Linked DNA regions of Homo sapiens. The protein of the gene in region 1 purifies or fractionates together with the protein of each later gene. This does not show direct contact. Each region holds a gene or a part of one and is shown in the gene's direction. Other genes may lie near its edges.

The links.
Region 2: the proteins of SLC22A5 (region 1) and SLC35E1 purify together in Homo sapiens (affinity purification with mass spectrometry; one large-scale study listed by BioGRID and IntAct). This does not show direct contact.
Region 3: the proteins of SLC22A5 (region 1) and TMEM41B purify together in Homo sapiens (affinity purification with mass spectrometry; one large-scale study listed by BioGRID and IntAct). This does not show direct contact.
Region 4: the proteins of SLC22A5 (region 1) and VMP1 purify together in Homo sapiens (affinity purification with mass spectrometry; one large-scale study listed by BioGRID and IntAct). This does not show direct contact.

Annotation. Positions count from the first base shown.
Region 1 is NC_000005.10:132,383,210-132,386,709, forward strand, and holds part of SLC22A5 (organic cation/carnitine transporter 2), read left to right. Parts: exon of another isoform or gene 1-937; coding exon 938-1,092; coding exon of another isoform or gene 1,093-1,111; intron 1,112-2,118; coding exon 2,119-2,290; intron 2,291-3,500. UniProt on the Homo sapiens protein: Sodium-ion dependent, high affinity carnitine transporter. Involved in the active cellular uptake of carnitine. Transports one sodium ion with one molecule of carnitine.
Region 2 is NC_000019.10:16,562,416-16,565,915, reverse strand, and holds part of SLC35E1 (solute carrier family 35 member E1), read left to right. Parts: intron 1-3,500. UniProt on the Homo sapiens protein: Putative transporter.
Region 3 is NC_000011.10:9,311,794-9,315,928, reverse strand, and holds the start of TMEM41B (transmembrane protein 41B), read left to right. Parts: upstream 1-1,335; 5' UTR 1,336-1,487; coding exon 1,488-1,608; intron 1,609-4,135. UniProt on the Homo sapiens protein: Phospholipid scramblase involved in lipid homeostasis and membrane dynamics processes. Has phospholipid scramblase activity toward cholesterol and phosphatidylserine, as well as phosphatidylethanolamine and phosphatidylcholine.
Region 4 is NC_000017.11:59,808,654-59,812,153, forward strand, and holds part of VMP1 (vacuole membrane protein 1), read left to right. Parts: intron 1-142; coding exon 143-223; intron 224-3,016; coding exon 3,017-3,133; intron 3,134-3,500. UniProt on the Homo sapiens protein: Phospholipid scramblase involved in lipid homeostasis and membrane dynamics processes. Has phospholipid scramblase activity toward cholesterol and phosphatidylserine, as well as phosphatidylethanolamine and phosphatidylcholine.

The DNA of each region.
Region 1 (3,500 bases):
GTAATAATCACTTCCTTGTGAGTTTTTTTAGTTTTATTATCGAAATATGCATCCTTGACACAAATTTAGTGTTGCCCACTTAATATATTTGATGTCTTTTAGTCTACTTAATCTATGGATTCTCCTTCTATCGCCTTCTATGCCTTACTGATTATCTATGAAGAACCTGAGCTATTCCACCTATAGAATTTCCCAGTCTGGATTTGTTGATTGCACACTGATGATGCAGTTCAGCACATTCCTCTATGCTCTGCATTTCCTCAAAATTGGCAGTTGGATCCAGAGACTTGAGATTCAGGTTCTGATTCAGGTTCAGTCCTTTTGGCCAGACCATAGGAAGCATGCAATTCCTGACTGTCTCTTTATGATGTTAACAGTAATTAGTATATAATGCATAGATCTATTAATCCATTGGGGGCTATAAATGGTATTATTCTAATTTTATTACCTTTTCATTTAAAAGTTAGAATACTTTTGTACATGATACTACCTCTTATCTATTATTGGTTGCTGTTCACATAGTTTACAAAGGAAAATCAGGACAAATGTTTCTTTCTCTTTATTTGCCAGTTTTCATTTATAATGAATTGTTTCTCTGTTATTCTCCAAATTTGGCAGATTCTTTTTTAAAAAAAATATCATTATGAATGTATGGATTAAATAATTGATGTATTTCAGTCTCTTGCAATCATTATCATAATTGTAGCATTGCTTTTTAGGCAACCCTGGTACCCAGGCTGTACATTTGTCATGGGGAGTGGGGAGGGGGAGAAATAGCATGGGCACTGTGAGACCGAGACTGTCCCTGGCAGCCAGTATTCTGGCAACACTGTTCACACCCACTTACTGGATGGATCTTGAGAAAGCCCCACTTGGTGGAGCCCATTCCTGCTGCCCTTTTCCAGCTGGTTATCTGTCACTCTCCTTTTCTTCCCAGGTTTGGCCGGAAGAATGTGCTGTTCGTGACCATGGGCATGCAGACAGGCTTCAGCTTCCTGCAGATCTTCTCGAAGAATTTTGAGATGTTTGTCGTGCTGTTTGTCCTTGTAGGCATGGGCCAGATCTCCAACTATGTGGCAGCATTTGTCCTGGGTATGGCCATCAGGTTGGAGTTGAGTACTTGATCCTGTATTTCACCATCATCCCATCACCTACCTTTCTGGAGACAACTGTGATGTCCCTCAAGGGGGACAGGGTTTCTAACAAAACTAGCCAGAGCTTCCTGGTGAACCTTACTTACAGGCAGGGAAACTGAGCCAGACATGAGACCAGCCTGGGGTCCCCAGCAGCACAATGGCCTGACTTCTGATTTCCAGTTCTTTTCTGGCCTCTGGGCTGTGGCTCCTTGGTCTTAGTACTTGATGGTCAATTTACTAGGACTCACCAGAGATCCTCCATTTACAAAAAGGGCCTGCCACTGCACAGGGCTGAGCCAGCCCCAGAAAGAGGGCGGCATGGTTGGAGGAGGAGGGGCTGTGACTGGCAAGCTTGCTAAGGTAGAGAACCCCTTGTCTGCAGAGCACTGTGGCTGGTGATATCTACGGACAAGAATAAATTGATAGGAAGGGGCTTTCGTCACCTTCAGGGTTTTAATTCAGAGTGCACACTGCAGGGCTTTGTCTCAAATGTGCCAGCCTGTTGTCACTGAGAAGCTGCCAGGCCGGCCTGTGTTTGGAGGAACCTGACTCTAGCTGATAAGGCCTTTGAGTTCCTTGGGTTGTATTGTTGAAAGGGTTGTTTTTTCTTTTTATATTTAATATTCTTTCCTTGAGGCTTAAGTCAGCATGTGCTGACTTAGTAATGACTTCACTTTTAATAAATTCTTCCTCATGTGAGGATTAAAGGGGGCCTACCATGGCATCTTTAGCACATGGCTTCAGAACATGGCGAAATTTTCAAGAGAGAACTGTTGCTTGGGGGCCTGAGAGGCCACAGGGATGTACCCCCAGGAGACAGTCAGACAGGAGGGGTTCAGAACGCCATCCGCTCCCTAGCGCCATGAACTTAGAGAGAGTTCTCGCTGTTTTCTTGTCTGTGTATTCACAAAGATACCATAAAAAATTAATAAGGAAGGAACCCAAATTAAACTGCTAACTCGACCTCCCTTGTTTTGAACAGGGACAGAAATTCTTGGCAAGTCAGTTCGTATAATATTCTCTACGTTAGGAGTGTGCATATTTTATGCATTTGGCTACATGGTGCTGCCACTGTTTGCTTACTTCATCCGAGACTGGCGGATGCTGCTGGTGGCGCTGACGATGCCGGGGGTGCTATGCGTGGCACTCTGGTGGTGAGTGTGACCTTGTGCCCCATGTGCCCACTGGCAGGATGATTTCTGTCTGGCCTTCACTAGAGGGCAGCAACAACCCATGAATCCCTATTTTGTCTCCCAGAGACAGGAAGCATAGATTATAAATTATTTCAGAATGTTTTCTCCACACTCAAAAGAGCCAAAACAAAACAGAATCCCATGACAGCAACAGACTTGCTCTCAGCCCTGTGCTGGGTTGCCCCAAGTGTGGGGAAAAATAGCAGTAGCTGTGAGAAGATGGGGTCCAGCATGCCCTGTAGGAAGTTCCCAAGCCTCAGGGCAGGACAGTGTAGGCCCTAGTTCTGGCTGTGTGCTGCTGAAGCCTCATGCCACAGGCACTGGCACCAAAAGCAAGAGTCCTCAGGGTAGCCACATGGAGGAAGCCAGGCTCCTTCTGCACCACCAAGGTAGAGGAGTTGAACAGGCAGAGAAGAGGCCATTCCAGACCAAGAGGGGAACACTGCAGAGGTGCTAAGGTGGGAATCACCCCTTGCAGGTGGAGAAGGTGAGATCACCAGCCCAAGTGGAGCAGAGAGCATTTCAGGGCATAGTGGGAGAGTAAGCCGCACATCATGGGGCCCAGTCATGACCGAGGGTGGGGGGCGGCTACCTGGTCCCAGCAAGGTGGAAAATAATATCCATAGAGCACTCAAGTGCCTTGATAAACATGCTAATTTTTTTCCTTTTTTTCTTTTCTTTTTCTTTTCTTTTTTTTTCTTTTTTTTTTCTCAGACAAAGTCTCTGTTGCCCAGGCTGTAGTGCAGTGGCGTGATTTCCACTTACTGCAACCTCCGCCTCCCCAGTTCAAGCGATTCTCATGTCTCAGCCTCCCGAGTAGCTGGGACTACAGGTGCCTGCCACCACACTTGGCTAATTTTTTTTGTATTTCTTTGGAGAGACGGGTTTCACTGCGTTGGCCAGGCTGGTCTGGAACTCCTAGCCTCAAATGATCCACCGGCCTTGGCCTCCTAAAGTGCTGGGATTATAGGAGTGAACCACTGCACCTGGCCAAACATGCTATTTTAGGTAGAGTATCTGACTAATCTGTTGGATAAATCAGGGGTAGGGTGAGGAGAGAAGAGAAGCTAAAAGGCCAGTGCAGAAGCTTCTGTTGGTGCCGGGGACAGGGAGGAGAGTGTAGCAGGGCCTGGGCTGACATAGACATGCACAGAAGCCAGGCTTCCGGAGC
Region 2 (3,500 bases), on another chromosome or scaffold:
TCCCAAAGTGCTGGGATTACAGATGTGAGCCACTGTGCCTTGCCAGCCCTGGAACTTTGAAAACTATGCACTGGCCAAAAAAAAAAAAAAAAAAAAAAAAAGCCGGGCGCAGTGGCTCACGCCTGTAATCCCAGCACTCTGGGAGGCCAAGGCGGGCGGATCACGAGGTCAGGAGTTTGAGACCAGCCTGGCCAATATGGTGACACCCTGTTTCTCCCAAAAATACAAAAATTAGCCAGGCATGGTGGCTCGCACCTGTAGTCCCAGCTACTTGGGAGGCTGAGGCAGAAGAATTGCTTGAACCCAGGATGTGGCGGTTGCAGTGAGCCGAGATGGTGCCACTGCACTCCAGCCTGGGTGACAGAGGGAGACTCCGTGTCAAAAAAAAAAGAAAAAAACATGCGCTGCCTGGGTGTGGTGGCTTACGCCTATAATCCCAGCACTTTGGGAGGCCAAGGTGTGTGAATCATTTGAGGTCAGGAGTTCGAGACCAGCCTGACCAATATGGTGAAATCCTGTCTCTACTAAAAATACAAAATTAGCCAGGCGTGGTGGTGCACGCCTGTAATCCCAGCCACTTGGGAGGCTGAGGTGGGAGAATCGCTTGAACCCAGGAGGCAGAGTTTGCAGTGAGCCGAGATCGCACCACTGCACTCCAGCCTGGGCAACAAGTGTGAAGCTCCGTCTCAAAAAAAAAAAAGAAAGAAAGAAAACTGTGCAGCTCAGTTCCTCCCTGGTCTCTGTTTCCATTTACTCCACGTCGAATCTTTTTGCCACCTGCAGGGTCTGCCTTCAGAGAATGTGTTATAAATGAATGCAAGTGCCTGCGGTGAGGAGGAGGCCAGTGCGATTCTTCCAGACTCGAGTTAGAAAGGAAAAGTAAATATTTATTGAGGTCTTAATGTGGTCTAGCTGGATTTGTGACATTTCTTATCTTTAATCCTTGGCTCCACCTGCTGAAGTAGTGGATATTACCTCTATTTTCCCAATCAGTAAACCATGGCTCACTTTTCTAACTTTCGTTTCACATTGATGAGCTGTAATTCTTCTGTGAAGAACTTTCCATCTTCCAGGACTAGTTTGTTACCTTGAAGTATGGTACGAGAAAGGCAGTTTAATGCTTAACTGTTCCTTTTGATGACTAATTTTCAGGATAGAGAGTTGGAGCTTACTCCAAATGTTGACCAGAGTTGAGGGTTTGTTTGGGGGTAGGGAAGGGGTTCTCTTTTTTTCTCCAGCATCATTGTGAACTTTTATGTGTTTGTCAGTTGCATGAATTATTCGTTTTCCTAGTCAAATTGTCCTGTCTTGGCCAGGCGCAGTGGCTCCAGCCTGTAATCCCAGCACTTTGGGAGGCCGAGGTGGGCAGATCACTTGAGGTCAGGAGTTCAAGACCAGCCTGGCCAACGTGGTGAAACCCCATCTCTACAGAAAATACAAAAATTTGCCAGGCATGGTGGTGCACGCCTGTAATCCCAGCTACTCAGGAGGCTGAGGCAGGAGAATTGCTTGAACCTGGAAGGCGGAGGTTGCGGTGAGCTGAGATCGTACCACTGCACTCCAGCCTGGGCGACAGAGCGAGACTCCATCTTAAAAAAAAAGAAGAAAAAAAAATTGTCCTGTCTTAGCCATTGGAGCCCTTCTGATTGGCTCCTTGCCCTTCTAGCACTGTGGGTCAGCGTTTCTCCCAGCGGGATGCCCGCCTTCACCTTGTGTACTTCCCATCCCAGAGCTGCAGTCAGCCCCTCCTTCAGGACTCCAGGTGCCGTTAGTGGGGAGCGGTATTTAGAGACACAATCCAGGTGCCATGGGTGCTTTTTGCTGCTGGGTGGTCATTGTTGTTAGGCCTTTACTGTGAAAAATTAGGAAGTACACACTTGGGGCAGCAGCAAAGAGTTCCTAGCAATTAGCGTCACTTTCAGTTGAACAGTCCAGATCTTTGCTGTTTTGAATTTCATATTTAGATCTCGTCGCTGGTATGCTTGGTTCCGCTCCTCGTTTCTTAGTTGCTTATTCTACCCGTTATTCACTGATGTTATTCTACTGTACACTCACTCATATAATTGCTTCAGAATGAGCATTCTCACAGCACAATTGCAACTGGAGTGCTGAGAAAAGGTTAGTATTTCTTTGCAGGCTGGGTGTGGTGGCTCACACCTGGAATCCCAGCACTTTAGGAGACCGAGGTAGGTGGATCCCTTGAGGCCAGGAGTTCGAAACCAGCCTGGCCAACGTGGGGAAACCCCATCTCTAGAAAAAATATAAAAATTATCTGGTGTGGTGGCGTACGCCTATAATCCTAGCTACTAGGTAGGTGGAGGTTGCAGTGAGCTGAGATCACGACACTGCACTCCAACCTGGGTGACAAAGTGAGACTGTCTCATAAAAATAAAAAAAAAGAAGAAGTCTGGTCATGATTCCTGTACTCTCCCTGTCCCCTCCCTGACCATGGATAACATTTCTTAGGCTCCTAGTTCACCTGTTCCATATTTTTGCAAATATAAGCAAATTTGCATGTATAATCACCCTCTGTCCTTATTACACACAGAGTAGCTTTTTATTTTATTATTTTATTTTATTTTATTTTATTTTTTGAGACGGAGTTTTTCTGTCTCCTAGGCTAGAATGCAATGGCATGTTCTCGGCTCACTGCAGCCTCCGCCTCCCGGATTCAAGCAGTTCTCCTGCCTCAGCCTCCCGAGTAGCTGGGACTACAGACACCCACCACCGCGCCCAGCTAATTTTTTGTGTGTTTTTACTAGAGGTGGGGTTTCTCCATTTTGGCCAGGCTAGTCTCAAACTCCTGACATTAGGTGATCCACCCACTTCGGCCTCCCAAAGTGCTGGAATTATAGGCGTAAGCGACCACGCCCAGCCCAAAAAGTAGCTTTTTAAATTTACAGGTCAGGCACAGTGCCTCACACATGTAATCCCAGTATTTTGGAAGGCAGAGGCAGGCAGACTGCTTTAGCCTCAGGAGTTTGAGACCAGCCTGGTCAACATGGTGAAACCCCGTCTCTACGTAAAACAAAACCAAAAATTAACCCGGCATGGTGGCACATGCCTGTAGTCCGAGCTACTTGGGAGCCTGAGGTGGGAAGATCACTTGAGCCCGGGAAGGTCAAAGCTGCAGTGAGCCATGTTTGAGCCACTGCACCCCAGCCAGCATGACAGAGCAAGACCCTATCTCAAAAATAAATATAAACATACAGTCATCCTTCCATATCTGTGGGTTCCACACTAGTGGATTCAGCCAACTGCGAATTGAAAATATATGGTAGAAAAACAAAATACTATAATAAAGAATAAGACATTTTAAAATAATACAGTATAACAATTATTTGTATAGCAGTTTTATTGTATTAGGGATTACAAGTAATCTAGCGATGATTTCAAGTATATGGGAGGATGTGCATGGATTACATGCAAATACTAAACCATTTTATAAAAGGGACTTGAATATCTGTAGATTTTGGCATCCGCAGGGGTCCCTAGAACCA
Region 3 (4,135 bases), on another chromosome or scaffold:
TGCCTTAAAGCTTATATTCTAAAGGTGGAGGCAGACAATAAACAAGTAAACAAATAGTTCACAGAATTAATTGCTTTTAATGACTATGAAGGAAATAAAATGGGAGCCAGAAGTAGGCAAAGGATGTGTACATAAAACAGTTCAATTGAATGGGTTTCCCATAATTTACTTAACCATTTTTATTTAGTGTTGGATTTTTATATTGCTTTTAGTTTTTCACTGTTATACTAATACAGAGGAATTATTTATGTTTATTTTCATGGAATAATTTCCTACAAATGTAATTACTGAATAGAAACAATCAGGATTTTTTTTTTTTTTTTTTGGGACGGAGTCTTGCTTTGTGGTCTATGCTGGAGTGCAGCGGTGCAATTTCTCACCGCAACCTCAGCCTCCGGGGTTCAAGCGATTCTCCTGACTCACACTCTCGAGTAGCTGGGATTACAAGCCATCATGTCCAGCTCATTTTTGTATTTTTAGCAGAGACGGGGTCTCATCTCACCATTTTGGCCAGTCTGGCCTCACACTCCTGGTCTCAAATGATCCGCCCGCCTTGGCCTCCCAAAGTGTTGGGATTACAGGCTTGAGCCACCGCGACCGGCCTCTAAGTTGCTTTCAAGAGGTAACCACGGTGAGTAAGCTGAATGTGCTCTGAGGGGTAGAAGCAGAAAAAGTTACCTGTGGAAAAGGCATGTTTCCGCTTAGCTTAGGGATAAGCTAAATGTAGAGCTGACTTGGGTTTAGTAGTAAGGGGCAGCAGCTAATGCAAAACCGTTAGCTTTGGGAACAGGACAACCTGGATTCTAAGCCCATTTTTGCCATCCTGTGATCTTCACAGGTTGTACGTAGCCCTCTCTGAGCCTTAGTTTCCTGAAATTCAGGTAGGTTTTGCTCAACCTTTGTATTTCCCACCATCTTTTAGATCAAGCACTCTCTGGCGCCTCCAAATTGAAGACAGCAGCTGCGGAATTGATGTAATGGGCTGAATCAGCCTCAGCCGCGAAATGCCGACTAATCACAGGCACCTCCGGCGGCCTGGACAAAAGGTTTGAAGTCCCTGGGACCGCACTTCCGGGTAATTAAGGCTACGCTTTAGACGCCAGGGCCAGCGAGTCGCAGCCGGGTGACTCGAGTGCCGCGACTGCGCATGCTCTCGCCCCAGCGCCCGGCGGCCACCTCTTTCCCGCGGGCGGGCCGGGGCGGGGCACTGAAGGGGGCGGTCCAGGACCCTGACTTGTCTCGCGGTTACTGGGCCGGCGCGAGCACGCGAGGCTCGGGGGCGGCACGGGGCGGGGTTTAGCCTGTGGTGGGCGCTGCGGGTGTTTGCAGGAGGTTGCAGTACTCGCTGGGCTGAGGTCGTCTCGGGTGAGGAGGTCGCGCCGGAAGTGGCTCTAGCCGTGGCGCTTCGGCGTAGTAAGGAGCCTGCAACAGAGTTTTGTTGTTTAGGGGGCGCGGCACCGCACCGCTCCCTTCACCTTGCAGCAGCCATGGCGAAAGGCAGAGTCGCCGAACGATCGCAGTTGGGCGCTCACCACACGACCCCCGTGGGGGACGGGGCAGCGGGGACGCGGGGTCTCGCGGCGCCTGGCAGCAGAGACCACCAGAAGGGTGAGTGGGCCCGGGGAGCAGAGCTGGGGGTGGCCCGAGGCTTCTGTGTGTCGGGTGGGGAAAAGGACCCCCGCTATTCTCGGAGAGTCGCGGGGAAAGAGGGGGGCCTGCTGGCGCCGCGGCGGGAGCAGAGACCGTGGGGGAGTTGGGCTTGGGCGCTCGCGCAGCACAAGGCCGGACGCCGAGTAGGTGCGTTGTAAATGCTGTTTGAGTAGAATTCATTTAAAAGAAGGGATGACACTGGCTTGTTGACGCTCAGGTAGATTGTAAGGTTGATGATAACGACGCTAGGCAGAGCTGGAAGGAGCTGTACTGTGGCATTCGCTGCGTTGTTTTTACAGATGAAGAAACTGAGGCCCAGTGTGGGTATATGACTTATAAAGTCATAAAGCCAGATCAGTGAAGTAGTAGTTAGGAGCGAGGACTTAATACTTCCAGGTGGCAGTACACCTGGGCTTGAGTCCCTGCCCTACTGTTTACTTGGAACCTTGGACTTGGTAACTTTCAAAAAAAGCTCAGTGTCTGAACTGTGAAATGGGGATAATAATAATATCTACTTAATAGGTGGTGCGTGGGTTAAACGAAATAATTCACGTAAAAGATTTAGAGCAATGCTTGGATATGAAGTGGGGGCTAAATAAATATTAGCAATTACTTAGTTACAGCTAAGGTCACTCATTCTAAAGTTTATTTCCCCACTACATCATCCTGACATTTCTCACGGCTTTATTTTTGGTTTTTGTTTTCTCTTTATTCCTACTGCCTCTATAATTGCAGAATCTCACGGCTTTAAATATTGTTTTAAGGAAAAAACTGTACGTAGAAACTAAATACTTTGATTCCGTGTTGGCCTGGAATCGTTCTTTAAATGATTTTAAAGCTCATAAACTTAAAGTGATCCTAACAAGTTTGTCTGTAGCTCACATAGGTGTGTTCCACCACCAGTGATGGCTAGGAGAACTTCTAAGAGTATGTAGTAGAAAATGTTAATGTATTTTCAAATAATTTAAAATGTCTCCAACAGTCTAATTTGGCTCTGTCAGCCTTATGTTTTTGGGTATTTTTCCAGCTTATATACACTGGATCCAGGTGACTTCATATAATTTCAAAAACTGAGAAATGAATCGTTGTTAATGTATAAATCAGCTCTGAATAAAAGAAAGATTGTTTTGAAGACTCTACTACTGAGGGTGACAATATTCCAAGGTCTGGGTTTCCTGAAAAAGTGTTCCAGATAGGGCATCCCTAAAAATTGACATCTCATTTGAGGTAGCAGCCAGTTGTATTCATGATTTTTACCTAAAGCTATTCAAAAAATAAAACCTTGAAACTTCCAAAGTGCTCTTACTTTTTAATCTTATTTTATCATTACAACAAAACATTCAACACAATTATTCTTTTTTTTTTTTTTTTTTTTGAGACGGAGTCTCGGTCTGTCACCCAGGCTGGAGTGCAGTGGCGCAATCTTGGCTCACTGCAAGCTCCGCCTCCTGGGTTCACGCCATTCTCCTGCCTCAGCCTCCCGAGTAGCTGGGACTACAGGCGCCCACCACCACGCCGGGCTAATTTTTGTATTTTTAGTAGAGATGGGGTTTCACCTTGTTAGCCAGGATGGTCTCGATCTCCTGACCTGTTGATCCGCCCGCCTCGGCCTCCCAAAGTGCTGGGATTACAGGCGTGAGCCACCACGCCTGGCCTACAATTATTCTTATGATGCTGTCCCATGACATCTATAGATCACAAATCTATAGGAAGACAGGGAAGAGATGTGAAGGCGTGCCTTCACTTCATGATGAAGTAAGGCCTGTTTTTAGTGACTTGAGACAAGGCCTCGCTGTGTCACCTATGCTGGAGTGCAGTGGCATGATCATAGCTTGCTGCAGCCTCAGCTACCTGGGCTCATGCGATCTTCCCACCTCAGCCCCCTCAAATAGCTGACTACAGGTGTGTGCCACCATGCTCAGCTAATTATTTGTTTTTTGTAGAGAAGGGGCCAGGGTGTCTTGAAGTCCTGGGCTCAAGCGTCTTCCTGCCTTGGCCTCCCCAAATGCTGGAATTACAGGCATGAGCCATTGTGCTTTGCCAGATAAGTAAGGTTTGGATAAGTAAAGAGAAGGGAAGGGTATTCCAGGCTAGGAGAAAGAGAGTAGTAGGGTTGAAGGTTAGTGTGAAACTTTTATGTGTGTGGGTAGGGAGATTAATTTGTCAGGAGCAGAGGGTTTCTGTTGGGTGGTAGTAGGCGATGAGGTTGGCCTGTTCAGGATGTGTCAGAATGTTCCTGTAAATTCCATGATACTTGGAAATGAATTTGTATTCTATTAAGTGACACATATATAACTTTGACAAATAAGTAGTTATCATCATATGTATGTTTGAACTGTTTTACATGCTATCTGCAATGTTTGGTACATTTAGTGGATTCCTTGCCATTACTCTGGCCTCTAGTCTCAGAGCTAAGCCTAGTAGACTGTGGACCACTTTGACTACTTGAGTAAGGCAGAGGTAACACGGAAAGTCTAATTTTTGC
Region 4 (3,500 bases), on another chromosome or scaffold:
AACAACCTACTGTAATTTTTTTCATCATTCATCTTATTAATCAGTGTCATCAGATTGGGAGATCTTTAATAAACTCTAGAAAGAACCATCTTTCCTTCTTTTCCTACTTCTCATTAATGTTTCTAAATTTGCCTTTTTACAGGACTTTGCCTCCCGGGCCAAACTGGCAGTTCAAAAACTAGTACAGAAAGTTGGATTTTTTGGAATTTTGGCCTGTGCTTCAGTAAGTGAATTGTATTAAAACAGAACTTTTACTAAGTGGTAGTGTTATATTTTGATCCATATATACTCCTGAATTAACAAAAGTGCTATCACTTTTATTGGGTATGTAATTTTGTGAATCATTCACCTTTTTTTTTTTTTAAGACGGAGTCTCCCTCTTGTCACCCAGGCTGGAGTGCAGTGGCATGATCTCGGCTCACTGCAACCTCCATCTCCTGGGCTCAAGCAATTCTCCTGTCTCAGCCTCCCTAGTAGCTGGGACTACAGGCATGCACCCCCACGCCTGGCTAATTTTTATATTTTTAGTAGAGGCAGGATCTCATGTTGCCCAGGCTAGTCTCAAACTCCTGGGCCCAAGTGATCCACCTGCCTCGGCCTCCCAAAGTGCTGGGATTACAGGCATGAGCCACTACACCTGGCCCATTCAACTTTTTTTTTTTTTTTTTTTTTTTTTTTTGAGACAAGAGTTTCACTTTTGTGGCCCAGGCTGGAGTGCAATGGCACAATCTCGGCTCACTGCAACCTCCACCTCCCGGGTTCAAACGATTCTCCTGCCTCAGCCTCCCAAAGTAGCTGGGATTTCAGGCGACTGCCACCACACCCAGCTAATTTTTTTTTTTTTTTTTTTTTTTTTTTTTTTTTTTTTTTTGAGACGGAGTCTCGCTCTGTCGCCCAGGCGGTAGTGCAGTGGCGGGATCTCGGCTCACTGCAAGCTCCGCCTCCCGGGTTCACGCCATTCTCCTGCCTCAGCCTCCCAAGTAGCTGGGACTACAGGCGCCCGCCACTACGCCCGGCTAATTTTTTGTATTTTTAGTAGAGACGGGGTTTCACCGTTTTAGCCGGGATGGTCTCGATCTCCTGACCTCGTGATCCGCCCGCCTCGGCCTCCCAAAGTACTGGGATTACAGGTGTGAGCTACTGCACCCAGCCCAATTCAACTTATTAAATGAGCTGTTTTCTGTTGAATAGGTTCACATCTTGTTTATTGGCTTTTAAGTATTTCATCATGTAGTGATGACTTCAGACCTAAATGGCTTAAATCAGTAAGAATAAAAGAGACAAAATCCATTCTTCCAATGAAGAATATACTACATTTAACCAAATTAAACTACATTTAACCAAATAAGGATGACTTCATTCTTTCCTCAAATTTATAGATAAGAAGTCTTTTTCCAAAGTTTCAAGTATTAGTTACAAGGAAGAATTTATATAAAACCTGTTTAAAGCGATGTTAGCTCAGGGCTACTCTGATTTACGTATCTTAAATCCTTTTTTTGTGTTTGTTTTTCTTTTTTTGAGACAGAGTCTCCCTCTGTCACCCAGGCTGGAGTGCAGTGGCGAGATCTTGGCTCACGGCAACCTCCACCTCCCAGGTTCAAGCGATTCTCCTGCCTCAGGCTACCCAGTAGCTGGGATTACAATCATGCACCACTACACCCAGCTAATTTTTGTATTTTTAGTAGAGACAAGGTTTCACCATGTTGGCCAGGCTGGTCTCGAACTCCTGACCTCAAGTGATCTACCCACCTCGGCCTCCCAAAGTGCTGGGATTATAGGCATAAGACACTGCGCCCAGCCTACATATCTTAAATACTTTAAATTCATTTTCATTTCAACATGAGTTGGAACCTTATGATAAAGGAAAAAAAAGTTATAACTCATAGAATTATGAGAGTCACATGAGCAAATATAACAAATAGCAGGTGTGATGCTGTGTAAATGATATTATTATATGGTTGTAAGAGATGAAATAATCCTAAAGCATTTGAATTTGGATGAGAAAAACAAAAATGAGTCATTGAATCCAAGTGTTACTAACAAAGGAATACTTGAATTCTAATTTAGTCATGTCTTTTTTAAAGATCATATGTGACAAGTATTTTTTAAATAACTAGGCTTTTCTTTCAAAGTTCAAAAATGAAATTATATAAATTAATTGGCTTATTAATGGTTCAGCCAACAGCCACAAGGTCAGAGTACTTTCATAGGAGAAGAAGGGATGAAGTGCTCAAAAACAGCTTGTGGCTTCTTTGCATTTTTACATGAAATGTCTTTTAGCATTCTTAAAATGTGGGAATGTTTGGGAAAGGTATTTGTTGTGAATTACTTCTTTGTCTGGGACTGAGTATTCAAAACATCTGAATCTGTGTGATCTCATATTTCCACACTTGATCTTCTTTATAAATTGTGTCACATAGCCCTCAGACTTGGTCTCTCGTAAAATAAAATACAAATTATTAATATTTTATGTTGAGAATAACAGCACATCCACCCATAAATGTATTTGAGAATTTATTAAAATATTTGCTAATGATATGAGTGCTTTCCAGATAATATTCACATTTCAAGCTAAAGATTTTAGAACCCTAACTGCTGAAACAATCTTAAGGCTCTTTCTTCACTCATACCTCACCTTAGAAAACAGCCACCAAATATCCAGGAATCAACTGAACGGGATTAAATTCCTGCAGGTCCACTTACTTTATCCAGTTCTCATGTGATGGGCACACACACAAACACACACACAGTGCCTTAGCCATGAGTAATATAAGCAAAAGGACACCTTGGTTTGCTGTGAGCAGATTGAACACCTAAGGTGAATATGAGACCCAGCTTCTAGACACATTAGGATGTTTGCCTAACCTCCTTTTGAACAATCCAGTAGTGATCAAGGAACCCATATATTGCTTTGCAGTGTAAGCAGGCTGAAAGCAGAATACCACATATCAATGGGTGATAAAATTAAATTGTTCTTTGGATTATAATATGGAAGTCCTTCTTTTTCTCTCTATAGATTCCAAATCCTTTATTTGATCTGGCTGGAATAACGTGTGGACACTTTCTGGTACCTTTTTGGACCTTCTTTGGTGCAACCCTAATTGGAAAAGCAATAATAAAAATGCATATCCAGGTAATTATACCCCCTGATTCACTGCCTAATGATGATGAACCCATTACAAGACAATGAAACATGCTCATTCCTAAGTGAATTATTTAGTTATTCTTTCTGCTTTTTTGGTTGGTAGCTTACTTAGGTAATACCACATAGAATGTCATTTGGAATTAGTGATCTCCTTGTTTTCTTTCTTTTCTTCTTTCTTCCTCCCTCCTTCCCTTTCTTCCTTCTTTCCTTCCTTTCTCTCTTTCTTTCTTTATTTTTTGTCCTGTTTAACTATTTATCCAGGACTTTCACCAAACAAAAATAGTGTTTGTGTGCAGAAAGATGCACATCATTTTTATATACACAGCCCAAAAAATGTAGTTTTTTGTTTGTTTTG